Regions from separate parts of the Homo sapiens genome. Here region 1 is linked to region 2. A link means that fine-mapping ties the variant in region 2 to the expression of a gene that starts in the linked region. Tissue or cell type: whole blood. Region 2 holds a variant in brackets; the other region holds the start of a gene. All regions are shown on one strand. Distances are from middle to middle.

The links. PIP is the estimated chance that this variant, and not a neighbour inherited with it, causes the effect.
Region 1: OSBPL2 starts here. The variant in region 2 is fine-mapped to the expression of OSBPL2 in whole blood (INTERVAL, PIP 0.94).

The regions. Positions count from the first base shown.
Region 1 is chr20:62,234,951-62,243,051 of GRCh38, forward strand. OSBPL2 (oxysterol binding protein like 2) reads left to right here and starts at 3,571. Exons shown (of 14, transcript NM_144498.4): 1 at 3,571-3,647. LOC105369209 (a long non-coding RNA gene) reads left to right here. Exons shown (of 4, transcript NR_160555.1): 3 at 56-413; 4 at 522-1,351. RefSeq lists a silencer at 3,299-3,698 and an enhancer at 4,396-5,320.
Region 2 is chr20:62,277,151-62,285,150 of GRCh38, forward strand. OSBPL2 (oxysterol binding protein like 2) reads left to right here. Exons shown (of 14, transcript NM_144498.4): 7 at 2,007-2,189; 8 at 3,908-4,015; 9 at 4,640-4,729; 10 at 6,896-7,019. Among named protein-coding and RNA genes, the nearest start is that of ADRM1, 22 kb to the right of the region's middle. RefSeq lists an enhancer at 1,783-2,283. The variant G/A (reference allele first, on the strand shown) is at 3,809.

The sequences.
Region 1 (8,101 bases), 42 kb before region 2:
ACTTGTCTCGCTTCACGTGGTGGGTTCAAAACTAAAAATACTCTCCTCCCCACAGCAGAGAAGCCAGGGCTGTCACGTCGCAGAGGAGACTGGAGAGCTGCGGCGGGGAGGGGTCAGCTGCGGCCACGTGAGGGCCAGGCCCCTCTCTGACTGCCCAGGCTGCATCCACACAGAAGATTCCATGGCTTTCCATAAAAGAGAGTGGGAGAATGTCCTCTCTAAAGGCCTGGGGAGTGCCTGGGGAGAGGAGACAGCCTCAGCTGGGGCTCACCAGCCAGCAGCTGCCAGCCAGGCCAGCAATGCCAAGGCACCCGGCGTTCCTGGAAGCCAAGCCCTGTTTGATCTAATGGGGCAGCTGTGGGTGCAGACCCAGATAAAGAGATAAACCCAGACCCAGAAACCTGGGGGAGGAGGTAAGAGTGGAGCGGGGGAAAGGGCGGTGGGTCGTAGGCGGGACTGGTGCTGCCAGGCCCTGGGCAAGCTGCTTCTGCTCTCTAAGCCTCAGTTTCCCCATCCAAAAGGTGGGAGCAACAACCTCTCTTCCGCCTCCTTCACCGTGAGAGGAAAGGAAGCGGGATGACATAGTTGTGGCTGGGACTGCTGGACCCCGCATGCCAGCCCTGGGAGGTATGTGGGTCATGAAATCCACCCACTGGTGACCTCCCCCATGGTGAGGGAGGGAGAGAGCTTCTCCCCTCCTTGGCTAAGAGGACAGAGGGAGGATCCTACAAATTCTGTCAGGAAGCAGAAATTTGGTCTGAGAGCAGTGAAGGTGGGAGCAGACACCCCCCAAATCACCTGCAGGATGAGCATTTCTCAGGCTCTAGAGAGCATGTGTGGGACACAGCCGCCAGCCCACCTGGTGCGGGGGTCCAGCAGCCACAGCCATGGGAACTCCTGGGCCTGTTGTTCGTGTGCGGATCCTGGTCCGGGAGCCTGGATGCGGCTCTGCCTTGCCGACAAGCTCCTGGGCCAGGCCTGGTCCACCAGACCTCCCTATGCTTGGAGTGCCTGCTTGTTGTGCCTGGAGCTGTGCTGGGCCCTTCCTCATTGCAGGGCTGGGGGAGTCACTTAACCTGTCTGGGGCTCAGTCTTCTCATCTGTAAAGTGGGAATGATGGCACCTGGTACCCACTTGATTGGCTGTTGCAAACATGAAACCAGATGGGCCTGTAAATCACAGGGCACTCGGCCGCCATCACCATCATCATCATCAACATCATCATCCTCATCATCATGGCCCCAGCTCATCCATCTTTGTTGCCTTCTCCACCCCCATCTTCCATCCTTGGAGAACTGTGCCTCTTGAATTGGCCTCGTGACCTAGTAAAGATCATAACAAAGACGCCTAAGTTGGTCTCAAGGCACCCTCCTTACTACCCACCAACTGAGGGAGGATTCTCGCCTAGTCCCAGCAACTGGCCCCGGGGAGGAAGTACCCTTCCCAGTCCTGGCACGTCTCCAGCAGTGCTGGCTGACGGCAGACTACCCTTGAAGCTCAGTTACTGCATTTGTGGAGAGGGGTGAAACCCCTGCTCCAGCCCAGGGGCCATCTGAGATCACACCCCCAACCCCAAGGCCAGGGTGGATCTCCCTGCTTGGCCCTGGGGTGGTCCCTGGGCAGATGAGAGGGTCCTTCTGCCTGAGCCTCTGAGGCTGCCCTCACTGCAGAGCTCGTGGTCAAGGGGTGGGTGGGCAGGTTGGATCCCCTCAAGGGCACAGGGGTTAGAGTCTTAGAGACTTAGGGTGAGGGACATGGAGAGTGATGGGTTTCTGGGACCCTGAGCTGGCCCTGGCAAGGCCCACAGGGAAAGCTGTGGAGCGCAGTCATCTCCGTGGCAACTGGCCTCATCGTCCTTGTCCTGGCTTGGGGGCCGCACGCCTTCCCTTCCCTTTCACCGGCTGGAGTCGCTTTCTTCAGAGGTAACCATGGCAACCCCTTTGTTTCTGAGGCCTGCCCGCCCTCCTCCCCGTTCTCTCTTCAGGAGAGGCTCAGCCAGCTCCTTCCTGGTCCCGGCACGTCTCTAGTGGCGCCGACTGACAGTGGCCCACCAGTGAGTGGGGCCAGCCCCTGGGGTGGGGGAGAACGGCCCTGCTGGGCCCAGAGATGTGGCCTGGGCCCCACCCCTGCCACAGAGGCCACGTTCATTGGCTCACTCATGCCCTGAAATTTATAGAGAGTACCCACGTCTGCCACGGGGCCACAGATGGGGCAAAGGCCTGTCCCTGCCTCCATGGCCCTGCTAGGGGCAGCCTGGAAGTGGGGAGACAAGGCCTGAGGAGGGGGTGCAGAGGCCCAACGGGGGCTGGCTTTGCTGCAGGACGCACTGCGGGGTCACGGGTCATCTGCCAGAGCTCTCAAGGCCACAGGAAGCCCAGGACTCTTGGCTTTACCTCAAATGGGCTGAAGCAGAAACAAGCATGTGGTTCACGTAACTGAAAAGTCAAGGAAAGGACCTGCTGAGGTGCAGCAGGGTCCACGTGACCCGGCCGTGGTTGCTCCGGCTTTCCTCTGGGCTGGCTTCATTCTCGTGCAGCCCTGTTCTCGGGTAGTGAGATGTGGAAGACTGGCCCCTTCCCTCTCTCACCTAACCCAGCTCTGGAGAGGTCTGTGGGCAGATGGGAGAGTCATTTGACTTCAGCCTCCCCTCCGGTCTGAACTCTGACCCTACAGCAAAAGTCCCAGGACTGAGCCTCTTTGGCTAGAACTGGGTCACAGGCTGACCCCTAAACCAACTGCTGTGACTATGTAGCCAGCCTGGTTTATGCCACTCCACTCACCTCAAACCAGACCCATGACTTCAATGAGATGTTGACAGGGGAACCCTGGTTTGCAGATGAAACTGAGTGATCACAGACTCAGAGAGGTTAATTAATTTGTCCAAATCCACACAGCTGGTAAAGAATGCAAGCTCCAGGTCTGATTCCAGAACTTCTGGGCTTAACCCTGGAGCCACTGTAGGTCAGTGGGAGTCCAAAGGGTTTTAAGTATGGTGGTGAAACGGTCGGGGATGCAGCTGGAGGGGTAAATTGGCGCTGGATTTTGGTTGGCGGTGAATGGCATGCAAAGGAGGTGGACGATATTCAGGATTTGGTAGGACAGTGGAAGCAGCTACGCCCCAGCTATCGCACGGTCCCCAGCATTTGTAGGAAAAAGCCCCCAGGGCTTTGGGTAGCCTCGCAGGCCCGCACTGCCGCCAGGACGCAGTGCACCTGAGGGCGGAGCACCCACGCCCCGGGCCACCTGACTCACTGTTTGTCAACTCTGCTCTCTGCAGCCACGCCCTTTCCTCCTTGCCTCCCTCCCCTTTTGGCTCAGGGGCGGCATAACCCCGCCTCTCTCCTGCTGTGACTGGCTGTCCTTGCCGTCACTCCGCTGCGTGGGCGGGGCTCTGAGGGGGCACAGGTAGAGGCCCTTCGCGAAGGGATTAGCATAGTCCCACCCCCCGGCGCGAGCCTCGGGCCGGGCGCTGATTGGGCAGGCAGCGGCCGACGCGGCGGCGCCGGGCGCAGCGAGTGGCGGGCGCGGGCTGTCAGTCGGCGAGGCGGCGGGCCGCACTTCCGCCTCGGTGTCAGTGGGTCGCGGGCCTACGGGGCGGGGGCGGGGCGGCAGTGAGCTCGGCCGGCAACCGAGGGACCCGCGTCCAGGTGAGTGGCCCCCGCCGCCGCCACGCGAAGGCCCGGGACCCCGGCGAGCTGCGGGGCCTGGGCCGCGGGCTGGGGCTGGAGCCGGGGCGGGGAGGGGAGGGCGGGCCGGGCAGGACCCGGGTCCGCAGGCCGCCTCCAGCCCCGGCCCCGGCCCCGGCCTCGACCCCCACTGGGAGGCGCGCCCGGCCTAGGCCGCAGCCTGGCGCCCCGGGGAAACTTTGGGAGGAAAGTTCCGGCCGGGCGTGGGGCCTGGGCCTGGGTCCCGCGGCCCCCGCACCCTTCCCCCTGCGGTCGCCCGGCAACTGCGATCCCGGGACCCCCGGCCCGGCCCCCCCGAGATCCCCAGCCCCCCTGCTGCCCCGCTGAGCAGGAAGTGGGGACGGGCGCACCTGCTCGCGGCCTCGCCCTCTCTCACCACCTCACCGGGAACAGGGAAGGATTTCGTGCGCATTTAGGGCGATCCTGTAGGTGAGGAGGGCGAGTTCCGCCGGGAAGAAGGGCAGGGAGACGCAGTCCCACTCCGACCCTGGCCTTCTTGTCCCGCAGGCCTGTGTGCACGTCGTCCCGGGGAGGGTGCCCGCGAGCCCTTGTCCGTTCCCCTGGGCTCTGTTTTTGTTTTTAATTTATAAATCTTAGCAGACTACACACGGTTGAGAACTTGCTACCTAAAACCTATCTTTGGTAATGTAATTTTAAGAGGTTCCTTCTTTCGCCAGTTATATTTTGGTACTCAGAAGAATACGTCTTTAGACTTTCCAAGTTTATAAGCCCAGACCAAGACTGTTAGGTCGTCACAGCACCTCAGCCTCCCCGCTTCATGGGAGGACCGGCGACGAGGCAGTGGGTGTCGGGGTGTTGCAGGCTCTCCTGGGGTGAGGGTCACCTCCCAGGGGCGTTTCTATCTGAACCGTCCTCTAGGACAGGCCCTGGCCTAGCCTGGCTCCGGCAGCTTTGGGATGACTGCCCGGAACACCTGGAGAAGGGGTCCCATTCGGTTTGGTTGGATAGACGTTTCTCGAATGCCTGCTGTGGGCCTGGCTGGGTGCTGTGCGGCCTTCCCACCAGCTGGATGTGTGGTGAGGACAGCGGAGAGTTGAGGAGCCCGGAACTGGTGCAGGGGCCACATGCTGGGAAGCCACGGCCGTCCCTGCTGCCCTTCCTAACTCGTGCCCATGGCCTCTTTTCTGGCTGTCAGCCTCAACTCCTTCATCCGGACATGTAGCACTTTGCTGATAAGAGAAGCAAACGAGATCATTTTCTTGTTTTATGTTTTGAGATGGAGTCTCGCTTTGTTGCCCAGGCTGGAGTGCAGTGGTGCGATCTTGACTCACTGCCACCTCCGTCTCCCGGCTTCAAGCCATTCTCCTGCCTTAGCCTCCCATCTAGCTGGGACCACAGGCGCCGGCCACCACGCCCGCCTAATTTTTTTATTTTTAGTAGAGATGGGGTTTTACCATGTTGGCCAGGCTGGTCTCGAACTCCTAACCTCAAGGGATCCGCCTGCCTCAGCCTCCCAAAGTGCTAGGATTCCAGGTGCGAGCCACCGCGCCCTGCCATGAAATCATTTTCTACCACAGTCTCTGACACCTAGTGCGCACCCCGGAATGCCAGTTACCTTCCCCTTGTTGAGGACAGGAACTTTGTCGGTGGCACTTCCTCCCTGCCCAGCCCAGTGCCTGCCACAGTGTCGTCTTTTAGAATGTGGCAATGAGTGAGTGAGTGACTGAGTCTCCCTCATAGAATTTACCCTGTTTTCTTCATGTGTCCATCTATTAATGACAGCTCTTACCCCAGCAGACGATAATATTTAATAATGATTGTTCCAGGACTGTTACGAGCATGTCGTATTCACTTTCTTTGTGTGATCTTCACAACAGTCCACTGGGCAGGTACTGACATTATCCTTAGTTCATTCATGAGGAAGCTAAGGAACAGAGAGGTTAAGTAACTTACCTAAACCACACAGCAGTAAATTATGAAATATGGATTTGAACCCAGGCTCCAGGGTTCACACTCTTAAACACTACCCTGTACTGCCTTTTAATATCAAGATTTTCATTTAACATTTTCGTTTAGAATATTCTAATCATGCTGCATTACTCTGTGTCAGAATTTCGGGATTTTGCTACATATAGAACTAATAGACTTTCTTTTTTGTGAGCCTGAGTGTTTACAAAGCCATTTCATTTTTTCTGAAATAAAGTAATTTACCGTTTGACCATTCAGGATTTTGCCAGAATACCTTCCCTGCCACCCAGCTCCTTTGTTACTGGCAGATTCAGTGGTGGTCTCTGTGTGAAGAGGGAGGACTGAGGGGCATGGGTGCTGACAGGCGTACAGTCCAGACTCTGAGGTCTCCGTTCTGAGTTCAGTTCCAGGGGACTTCACACACTGCCTTAGAGTACACACGTAGGACATTTTTCTTCCACGCCTCGAGTGCGTTGAGAGGGTCAGACTCTGCTGTGTTCCACATGTTAATGAGAGGTGCTGTTTGAATGTGAAAAAAATGCCACTTGACTTTCATCCCAGTGTCTCTCCTCTGTGCCGTCCAGGAGATGCCAGCAGATGGGTCTTGGAATTTTTTTTTTTTTGAGATGGAGTCTCGCTCTGTCGCCCAGGCTGGAGTGCAGTGGCGCGAACTCGGCTCACTGCAAACGCGAACTCAGCTCACTGCAAGCTCTGCCTCCCGGGTTCACACCATTCTCCTGCCTCAGCCTCCCAAGTAGCTGGGACTACAGGCGCCCGCCACCACACCTGGCTAATTTTGGGTCTTGGATTTGTCATTAAAGCTTGCTCGACTTTTAAAGTTTTAGTACATTCAGCCAATTACAAAAGTGACATTTTGTATAAGGGAATTGTTGACACATTTTAGGTTCTTATGCTGTCTTCAAGCAGGGAAGCTGCCATCTCCTCAAGGTGATTTCTTTAATGTCCCCATGCAAGCCATGTCTTGTCTGGCCGTGCAGGCACAGCTGGCGCCGTGCCTTCCTGAGTCACAGCATCTTTGCGAAGGTGGTGCGCCAGACCAGGGCTCTTGGGTCCTGGGTGGGTTCCCACTGGCTCCTGCCTTCAGTGTCTTTGCCTGTAAGACGGATTACTATGTGGAATCTGTGAAAATATAACATCAAGTGTCTGATACGTTGTGGGTGCCTGGGCCGCCCTTGGCTCCAACACCTGCTGAAGCTGGAGCCTCTCAGCAGTGCAGCAGTCACACCCTCAGGTGTCCCGGGATCTTTGGGTGTGGGCTGATTTTCTCCTAGTCATTGTCATACTTCCTGTTTGGGTGTTGACATTTCGTTTAGTGTTTAGCACAGATTGTCAGGTACGAGGTTTAATTCCAATATGTAGTACATTTTCAGGTTGATTTATAACCTTATCTACACTGAAAGGAAGTCAGTATTTGAACATGACTGATTATTAAAAAGGACCGAAGTCCTGAGTTAATATGGTGGGTTCTGGTTTGATAGTTTAAATGCACTTTCCACATATGCTAGTTGATTTGTAAATCTGCTGTCATTTTTGCTTTTTCAGAGTGTTCTTGCTAGTGAGTTTCAGGCATGGTGTCCCGGCCTCTCAGGCTGCTGGTTTGGGCTAGGGTCCCACTGTGGAAGCGTGGTGGTGTCCCGGCCCACCTCTGCAGCTCTTGATAATAAAAGCATCTGTTAAATAGCTCACAGCACTGTTTGCGTGAACTTTTTGGCACTTCTTTCCTTTTCCTTCCAGATTCAGAAAAGAACTTGGGATCATTCAGCAGAATGTCACAGCATCCACATTCTTTCCGCTGGAGCTTCTGCTGATGCAAATCCTGTGACCTCTGAGTTGAGCTGAGTGGTGGAAGTGAGCTTTTATAAGGGACTGGATCTGAGACTCGTGCCTGATGTTTGTGGCTGTTTCTCTTTGCTTGCCTTCTGTTTTCAGTGGAACACTCGCTTGATGTATTTTGAGAAACAAACTCTGGGATCAGTCCTGTTGAGCTAGTGGCTGGCTCCATAGTTTGGGGCCTGAAGAGGTTCCCGCACCCTCAGGGCTTGTGGCGGTCATCAGGCCTCTCTCCTGGGTGTAAGGTGTGTACTTCTCACCTGCGCACTGAGGGCCTGGGGGCTGTGGCCCCGACGCTGAGGCAAGTCAGGGGTGGGAAGGGTCTGAGGGGCTCTTGGCTGAGCAGACACTGAGCACATTTCTTTATCAAAGGCGCTGGGACTGCAACCTTCAGGGGTGCCCAGAGAGCGCCTGTTGTGGGCTCATACGGGGAGTTCTTGGAGGAGCACCAGGCAGGGAGGACTGTAGTGTGTAGGGAGTTGTGTGGAGTTTTGGTTCCAGAAAAGACGGAGGCAGCTGTAGAGGAAGGAGGACTATGGTGTGGAAGTGAGTGCCTGTGCTTTGTACTGAATAAACCTAAGGCTGATCCAAGGCTGATCGTGAGAAAGAGCCCCCTGTAACCTGGGACCTTGTGC
Region 2 (8,000 bases):
TGAGGCTGGAGAATCACTTGAACCTGGAGGCGGAGGTTGCAGTGAGCCGAGATCACGCCACTGCACTCCAGCCTGGGCGACAGAGATTTTGAGATTCCATCTCAAAAAAAGAAAAAGAAAAAGATAAATCAGAAGAGGAAAGAAGTTCTAGATGATAGAGAAGAAGCCTTGTGGGTGAAAGGAATGCAAGCCGCCTGGGCTGGGTAGAGCGGGGCGTGCCGCCAGCACCCTTCCCCAGGGGCTGCACCCGGGGCCGGAGCTCCTGCTGCACAGCCAGAAGCAAGCTATGCACCTTCGCAACGCCGAGACACGTCGTCTGTCATGAGTTCACTTCCAGATCGTCCTTGCCAGTGTCTGCCATGTGCTGTGTGTCTGTGAGACCCTGGCAGTCTGTCAGGTTAGGGGCCATGGACGTGGACCAAGTCCTTTCCTGATACCCTGGATCCCTACAGATCCCTTGTTATAGCTAAAAATACACATTCTTTTCTCAGACAAGTATTCATTTTGTAAATTACATACCTTGGTAGTCAACCTTTTAAAATCTAATTTTTCAACTTTCTTTCTTCTGTAATGATTGGAAATTCTGATTCCAGTTAAGTTGGTAATTATGTGGTTTAGCTTTTCTAATTTTTAATGACTACAACTGTAGGTGTATTCACAGTTCCGGAACAATTAAAAGCTGACATTTTGATTGAAAAAGAGAGTACACTAAAAATCCTGTTCCTGGACAGGAGTATTTTGGGGTATAAGCCATTCCATCTCGGAAATTTCAGGGGCCTTGTAGAAAGACAAGGAAGGGGCACCCCCTTCAGAAAGGGTTTAGGGTCCTGAGTTCCTGGGCAATGGGAGTCCCTCGGGGTTGAGGGTTTGGAGTCAGAGGTGTGTAAGGATTGCTTCTCCACCTGCGTCTCTGGGTACCTCTAGCCAGACACTGCTGTGGCTCAGGTGGAGAGCAAGCGGGGCATCAGGGTGGAGGCCTCTCCTGCACCATTGCGCTCTCTGGGTGGGTCAGATGTGCTCTGGAAGCCATGTGTGTGTGTGTCTGTTGCCAGCGTTAGGCCAAGTGCGATGTCATGTTTGTGTGTGTGTCTGTTGCCAACGTTAGGCCGAGTGCGATGTCATGTTTGTGTGTGTGTCTGTTGCCAGCGTTAGGCCAAGTGCGATGTCGTGTTTGTGTGTGTGTCTGTTGCCAACATTAGGCCAAGTGCGATGTCGTGTTTGTGTGTATGTCTGTTGCCAACATTAGGCCAAGTGCGATGTCATGTTTGTGTGTGTGTTGCCAACGTTAGGCCAAGTGTGATGTCATGTTTGTGTGTGTGTCTGTTGCCAACATTAGGCCAAGTGCGATGTCATGTTTATGTGTGTGTTGCCAACGTTAGGCCGAGTGCGATGTCATGTTTGTGTGTGTGTCTGTTGCCAACGTTAGGCCGAGTGCGATGTCATGTTTGTGTGTGTGTCTGTTGCCAATGTTAGGCCAAGTGCGATGTCATGTTTGTGTGTGTGTTGCCAACGTTAGGCCAAGTGCAATGTCATGTTTGTGTGTGTGTGTCTGTTGCCAACATTAGGCCAAGTGCGATGTCATGTTTGTGTGTGTGTTGCCAACGTTAGGCCGAGTGCGATGTCATGTTTGTGTGTGTGTTGCCAACGTTAGGCCGAGTGCGATATCGTGTTTGTGTGTGTGTCTGTTGCCGTTAGGCCGAGTGCGATGTCATGTTTGTGTGTGTGTTTGTTGCCAACGTTAGGCCAAGTGCAATGTCATGTTTGTGTGTGTGTGTCTGTTGCCAACGTTAGGCCAAGTGCGATGTCATGTTTGTGTGTGTGTCTGTTGCCAACGTTAGGCCAAGTGCAATGTCGGAGAGGTGGTGTTGGGTGTTTCCGCCACATGTTGTGGCATGGAGGGCCCCTGCTTCCCAGCGTCCTGTGAGGGGCTCCACATGATGTCTGAGCTGCCCTTTCTTTTATTTTGCTGCCATTAATGTGTCTCTCTTTTTTATTCTTTGACCTAGGGAAGATTTAGGATTCAGATTTATATCGGAACAGGTCAGTCACCACCCCCCCATCAGTGCGTTCCACTCGGAAGGTCTCAACCATGACTTCCTGTTCCATGGCTCCATCTACCCCAAGCTCAAGTTCTGGGGCAAAAGCGTGGAGGCGGAGCCCCGAGGCACCATCACCCTGGAGCTGCTCAAGTGAGTGTCGGTGCGTCCTGCTGAGATCCGCTTCCTGCAGAAACTGAAATGGGTGCTGGTGATGTGGAGGGAAAGCTTCCTTCAGGAGGAAACCCTGTCATTTTTCTCCTGAGGTGGGGACCTCCCCACAGCAGAAACGTCTTCAGATGAGCTTCCTGACCAGGGTCCCGTGTTGCTGGGGTGCGTCCTCACGTCTGCAGTTGGAATTCGCCCCCCTTTCGGTCACATCATTCATTGTATGACCAGGGTCCCATGTTGCTGGGGTGCATCCTCACGTCTGCAGTTGGAACTCACCCCGCTTTCCGGCATCATTCATTGTATTTCTTGTCTTTTGCTGCATAACTGTCCCAAACTTAGCAGCTTCCACACCAGGCTGGCAGGTGTCTGAGGGCCGGGGACCGTGAGGTTGCGGTGGCAATGAGGGTTGGGTTGCCCATGGCGCCTGTGTCCTGGCTCCCCTTCTGGGCTGCTTGCTGCAGGGCACTGCCTCCCACAGGGGGAGAGAGCTGAGAAGGAAGCCAGGGAAGTGGCCCTTTGCACACTCCCCCACCCTGTGCTCATGTGGCAGGGGTGACTTAGGGTTGGAATTTGAAACAGCGTGGGAGGGGACCCTCTGAGAGGCTGCTTGCCACCCCTCTTCACTCTCAGCCTAAATGCTCCCCAATCCAGTGTCAACCAAAGACACCTCAGAGCAAAACACAAGTCTCCAACAAATGCCGGCCGCTAAGACCCGACAGACACAGACCGGATGCTGGCGTCCTCCTGGGCCACCAGTTCTGAGACGTGAGTCTTGCCAAGCCACTGCCTGCAGTCTTGTTGTAGGCAGCAGGTCCTAACAAATACATACAGAAATAAGTAATAAACGACACCTTGCCTGATGAAGCATTTGATTTGGGTTTTGCTTCACATTGGCCCTGCCTGGATGGTGGCTAGAAGGTTCCACAAGGACCTGGAGAAGCCCCTGAGAGTGTGTCCTGGGGCTGGTATGGCCGAGTGCCTGTTGTGCAGTGGCCTTGCTTAATTAAGAGGCATGCAGAAATGAGAAGTTGCACACCTTGCTGATAAAGTTGCACACCTTGCTGATAACCTTGCTGATGAACCAGTTTGGGTTCCACCCCCAGGAAATTGAGAGAATTCCAGACGTGTGGCAAAATACCCTGCTCTGAGCAGATTTCTGCCTTCACTGTGGCTCCCCCACGTAGCACCTTAGAACATAGGGCTGCTGATCTGCTGCCTCACATTGGTGGGGTGTTTTCTTCTTGGGCAGGGCCATTTGGGAGGATGAGGAGTAAAGGAAACAAGTATGTGGAGTGCGGTTGAAAACCCTGCACCCCTCCACAGCCATGTGCCAGCTCCCCAGAAAGCCAGGGCCGCATGCCCAGGACCCTGCATTACTGCCGTGTGTGTTTCGTGAGGTGGCCTTTCTTTTGACGACTTCACAGGAAAGCCATTTGTCTTTGTTCAGTCTTCTTTGATTGCTTATTAACTTGTCTTGACATTTAAGTAGAAAGCTTTGTAGATGCTACAAAGGAAAGAAGAAGTACATTTCAAACGCATGCTAAATACACAGCCTCCGTCGCAGGGGCTTCAAAGCAGCGTGCTGCTCTCCCGCGGGTGCC[G/A]GTTGCTGTGACCCAGCCCCGCCTGGTCGTTGCGTCTTGGGTCACGTCGTGTCTTGGCTTTTCTGGACTCTCACTGCTTGTTTTCTGGTGTCTTCACAGACATAATGAAGCCTACACCTGGACCAACCCCACCTGCTGCGTCCACAACGTCATCATCGGGAAGCTGTGGATAGAGCAGTATGGGACAGTGGAGATTTTAAACCACAGGTGACAGCACCCCACCGTTGGGTGAGAGCGCGAGGCTCCGGGTGGGGATGGGCGAGCCGGGGAGCGTGAGCATCCGTGCTCCTGGTGGGTTTTAGCTCAGCCTCACGAGCTGCTGCCGTGTCCCCGCCAGCCCAGGCATAGCAGCTGCCTAGACTTGACTCTGACCGGTGTTGGCCATGAATGCTCCTCGTTCAAGACCTCGTTTTTCGTCACGGTTGTTACTTTAAGGCTTTGAGCTATGCTGAAGAGCTGTGTCATTGCCAGGTGCAGCGCAGTGGCCGTCCACGGCCGTTGGCCACTGTCTAGGCTTGAATGCCCTATTCCTGGAAGCTCATGACTGGTGGGCTTTGCCTTTTCACCACTTTAGTGAGGTATAATCGATGCATCATAAGACTCGCCCATTCTGAATGGACACTTAAGTGATTTTTAGTAAATTGACCGAATCATGGAGCCGTCCCCACAGCCCATTTCAAACACTTCCATCGCCCCAAAGGCCCACCACACCCATTTGCAGTCACCCCCCGCCTGCCCCAGGGGCCTCCACCGCGCTTCTCCTGTTACAGAGTTACCCTTTCCGGCTGTTTGCTGTCTTGCAGCAGAAACCTGTGTTTGTTTTTCTCACAGAACTGGACATAAGTGTGTGCTTCACTTTAAACCGTGTGGATTATTTGGAAAAGAACTTCACAAGGTGGAAGGACACATTCAAGACAAAAAGTAGGTCCTTGCCAAGTGTTCATGGGGCACCACTACAGCCTGTGTGTCCACGTTAGAAGGGCTCAGGTGCTCCTGGGCCTGCGTGTGCCTACGTGCATGAGACGCGGGTACACCAGTGCCATCTGTTCATGGTCCAGAAGTATGACTCTTTTTTGTTTTGGAAAGACATTTTGTTATTGAGCATAAAAGGAAATAAAGGGTATTTTTGAATGTAGTTTCTAGGTGGCTTGTTACTGGGGCCATCTTCTTTTGATAAAATTGTCTTGAGAAGTCAGCTATTTCCACTGGGAGATGAGAGGGGACTGTTTCGCAGCAGAGCTGAGGTGGGTGGGAAGTGTGGCCTTGCGTTTTCCTTCTACCAGCACCCCATGCACGTTGTCAGGCAAGACTCAAATGTGTTAGCTTGAGGGGCGTCAGTGTCACGTGACCAGTTCACTCCAGTCTTTAAATCAGGGACTTTCGCAAGTTTTTGTGAGCAGAGAAATGGTCAGTACTGTTCCAACAAATTTTTCAGTTTTTTTCTCCCCATTTGGGTTAATTACTTTGTAATCTGGGTCTCACATTTGTTTTTTTCGTAAGGAATTTGAGCCATAGAATGTCATGAAGTTCCTTCTAGTTCCAAAAATGTAGACATTTCCCATTAGAAACTAGTCCCCAATTTAAAACAGTCAGGGCCAGGTGCAGTGGCTCATGCCTGTAATCCCATCACTTCTGAGGTGGGCAGATCACCTGAGGTCAGGAGTTCGAGACCAGCCTGGCCAACATGGTAAAACCCCGTCTCTACTAAAAATACGAAAATTAGCCAGGTGTGATGGCGCACATCTGTAATCCCAGCTACTCAGGAGGCTGAGGCACAAGAATCTCTTGAGCCTGGGAGATGGAGGTTGCAGTGAGCCAAGATCACGCCAATGCGCTCCAGCCGGGGCAGCCAAGCAAGAGGCTGTCTCAAAAAAATAAGACAGTTGGTGTTTCTGCTCTGTCCACCCTCTATGGTAGACCAGAAATGCACCCGTTTGAACAGCCTATAAAATAAAATGGCCAGGCTTATGACTGACCATTTCTCCCATAAAACATGTGAGGATCAACATGTGGACCTAGAAGGGACAGCAGTCTTACAACAGGGTAGCAGTCATCAGTGCCTTGACACCTCTCCCCCTTGGAACTCAGCCCAGGGAGCAGCTGGCTGTCTGTTTCCAGAAATAGGCGGGGGCGCCGAGGCCAACACTCGCTGACCCTCAGTGAGTGCATGTAAAACATGTTTTTCCAGAACCGGGCAGGGACCCCGAGGCCAGACTCGCTGACCTTCAGTGAGTGCATGTAAAGTGTGTTTTGGTTGTCTGGTTTTCCATCCTAAATTTAAGGGTGCTCTGTCCTTGGAGACAGAGTTGTCCCCAGGCTGTCTACTAGGTGAGGCCTGGCCCAGTTCCCCGCGTCTGTGTGCTGGCTCTGCAGGCACTGCAGTGACACCGTCCCCTCCTGGGTCCCGAGTCTGTCAGAGTTGCACTTCCCGGGAGTCTGTGGTCACGGTTGACTCTTCCCAGCAAGAGGCGAAAGGAGAAAGAAAATGGAGTCTGGCACTATTTGGCTTCATCCCTTTTAGAATCGAGAGCTCTGGTGGCCACTCTGCAAAGGTCTCTGGGTTGTTATTGATGAAAAAAGGCAGGCGGGGAACCAAAGATCAAGCAAGCAGCATTGACTGCACTGATTGATAGAAAAGGGCTGAAGGACACACACACAACACATTGAGTGTGTTGAAAATGATCAGTGGGCGCATGCAGCTTTACATTTTAAAACGCTCACTCTTTTTTGCCCCTTCCCGTCTCCTGCAGCCCCCTGGACCAACCATCCTTTGGGTTTCCATCCCTTCCCGTCTCCTGCAGTCCCATGGGCCATCTCTCTTTTGGGTTTCTGTCCCTTCCCATCTCCTGCAGCCCGGTGGGCTGTCCATCCTTTAGGTTTCCGGCCCTTCATTTTCCTTTCCGTGGTGTGTATCGGGGCTACGAATGGTCCCAGAATGCAAATTTTCACCTTCGCATTTATGTCCAGAGATGTCCCAAGATGCATAAGAAAACATACCTGAGGGGAATTTATTCCAGGGTGCCACATGTTTAGACAAATGGTTTGTAATGACTAAGACTTGTCTTTAAAAATCCCATTTAATTACAGCAAAAAGAAGCTCTTTATGATCTATGGCAAATGGACGGAATGTTTGTGGGGCATAGATCCTGTTTCGTATGAATCCTTCAAGAAGCAGGAGAGGAGAGGTGACCACCTGAGAAAGGCCAAGCTGGTAAGGGCTGGGGCGTCCCCGGGCAGAGCTGAGCCCTGGGTGCTGAGGGCTGCCAGGCCGCTGCTGCCTTTAGCTCACCTGTTGGGGTCCCAGGGAACCTTTGGGCCCCACCAGGAGAGATGAATGTGCAGAATTTGTCTGTCCAGATGAACCATATATTGTGGGTTCCAGTATCAGTGAGGGGGTTTATCTGTATTTCTTTCCATTTTTTTTTTTTTTCCCCTCCAGGCAGGGTCTCCCTCTGTTGCCCAGGCTGGAGTACAGTGGTGCAGTCATAACTCACTGCAACCTCCAGCTACCAGGCTCAAGCAATCCTCCCTCCTTAGCCTCCCAAGTGGCTAGGACTATAGGCATGTACCACCATGCCTGACTAATTTTTATTTTTTTTAGAGATGGGGTCTTGCTATGTTGCCCAGGCTGGTCTTGAACTCCTGGGCTTAAGCAGTCCTCCCACCTCGGCCTCCCAAAGTGCTGGGATTACTAATAGGCATGAACCACAACACCCAGCCGGCATATCTGTATTTTGGTTGCACGGAGGCTGCTGCTATAAACCGTGGGCACCAGTGCCCACGAGTCATACATAATTGCTGGCCCCCATGGCTGGAAGTATCTGAGGGAACCTCAGGCAAGGCCGTTTCTTTTCTGGAAGCTCCAAGTTCTGGGTCCTTCTTAATAAATCTTCTCGCTTTCTTTGAGTTAGCCTAGACATATTGTTAAAAATCAAGTGAATTTCAATTTTTTGTTTTTAGTTGTGAGTACCAGATAATATATTCAACAGCCAGAAAGTACTGGCAAGGCTTTTCCCCTTAAAGCTTTGGAATACTCATTATCTTAAGACTAGTTGTTCTTGAACTTAAAAATAAAAGGGATAGTTCAAAAGAGGTGTCCTATTTTCTACATAATGAATTGGAATGTACCAAACCTGAAATGTTCAATATTTATTTAACGGAAACATTCAGCCTCCTCCGGATCCCAAGTGTT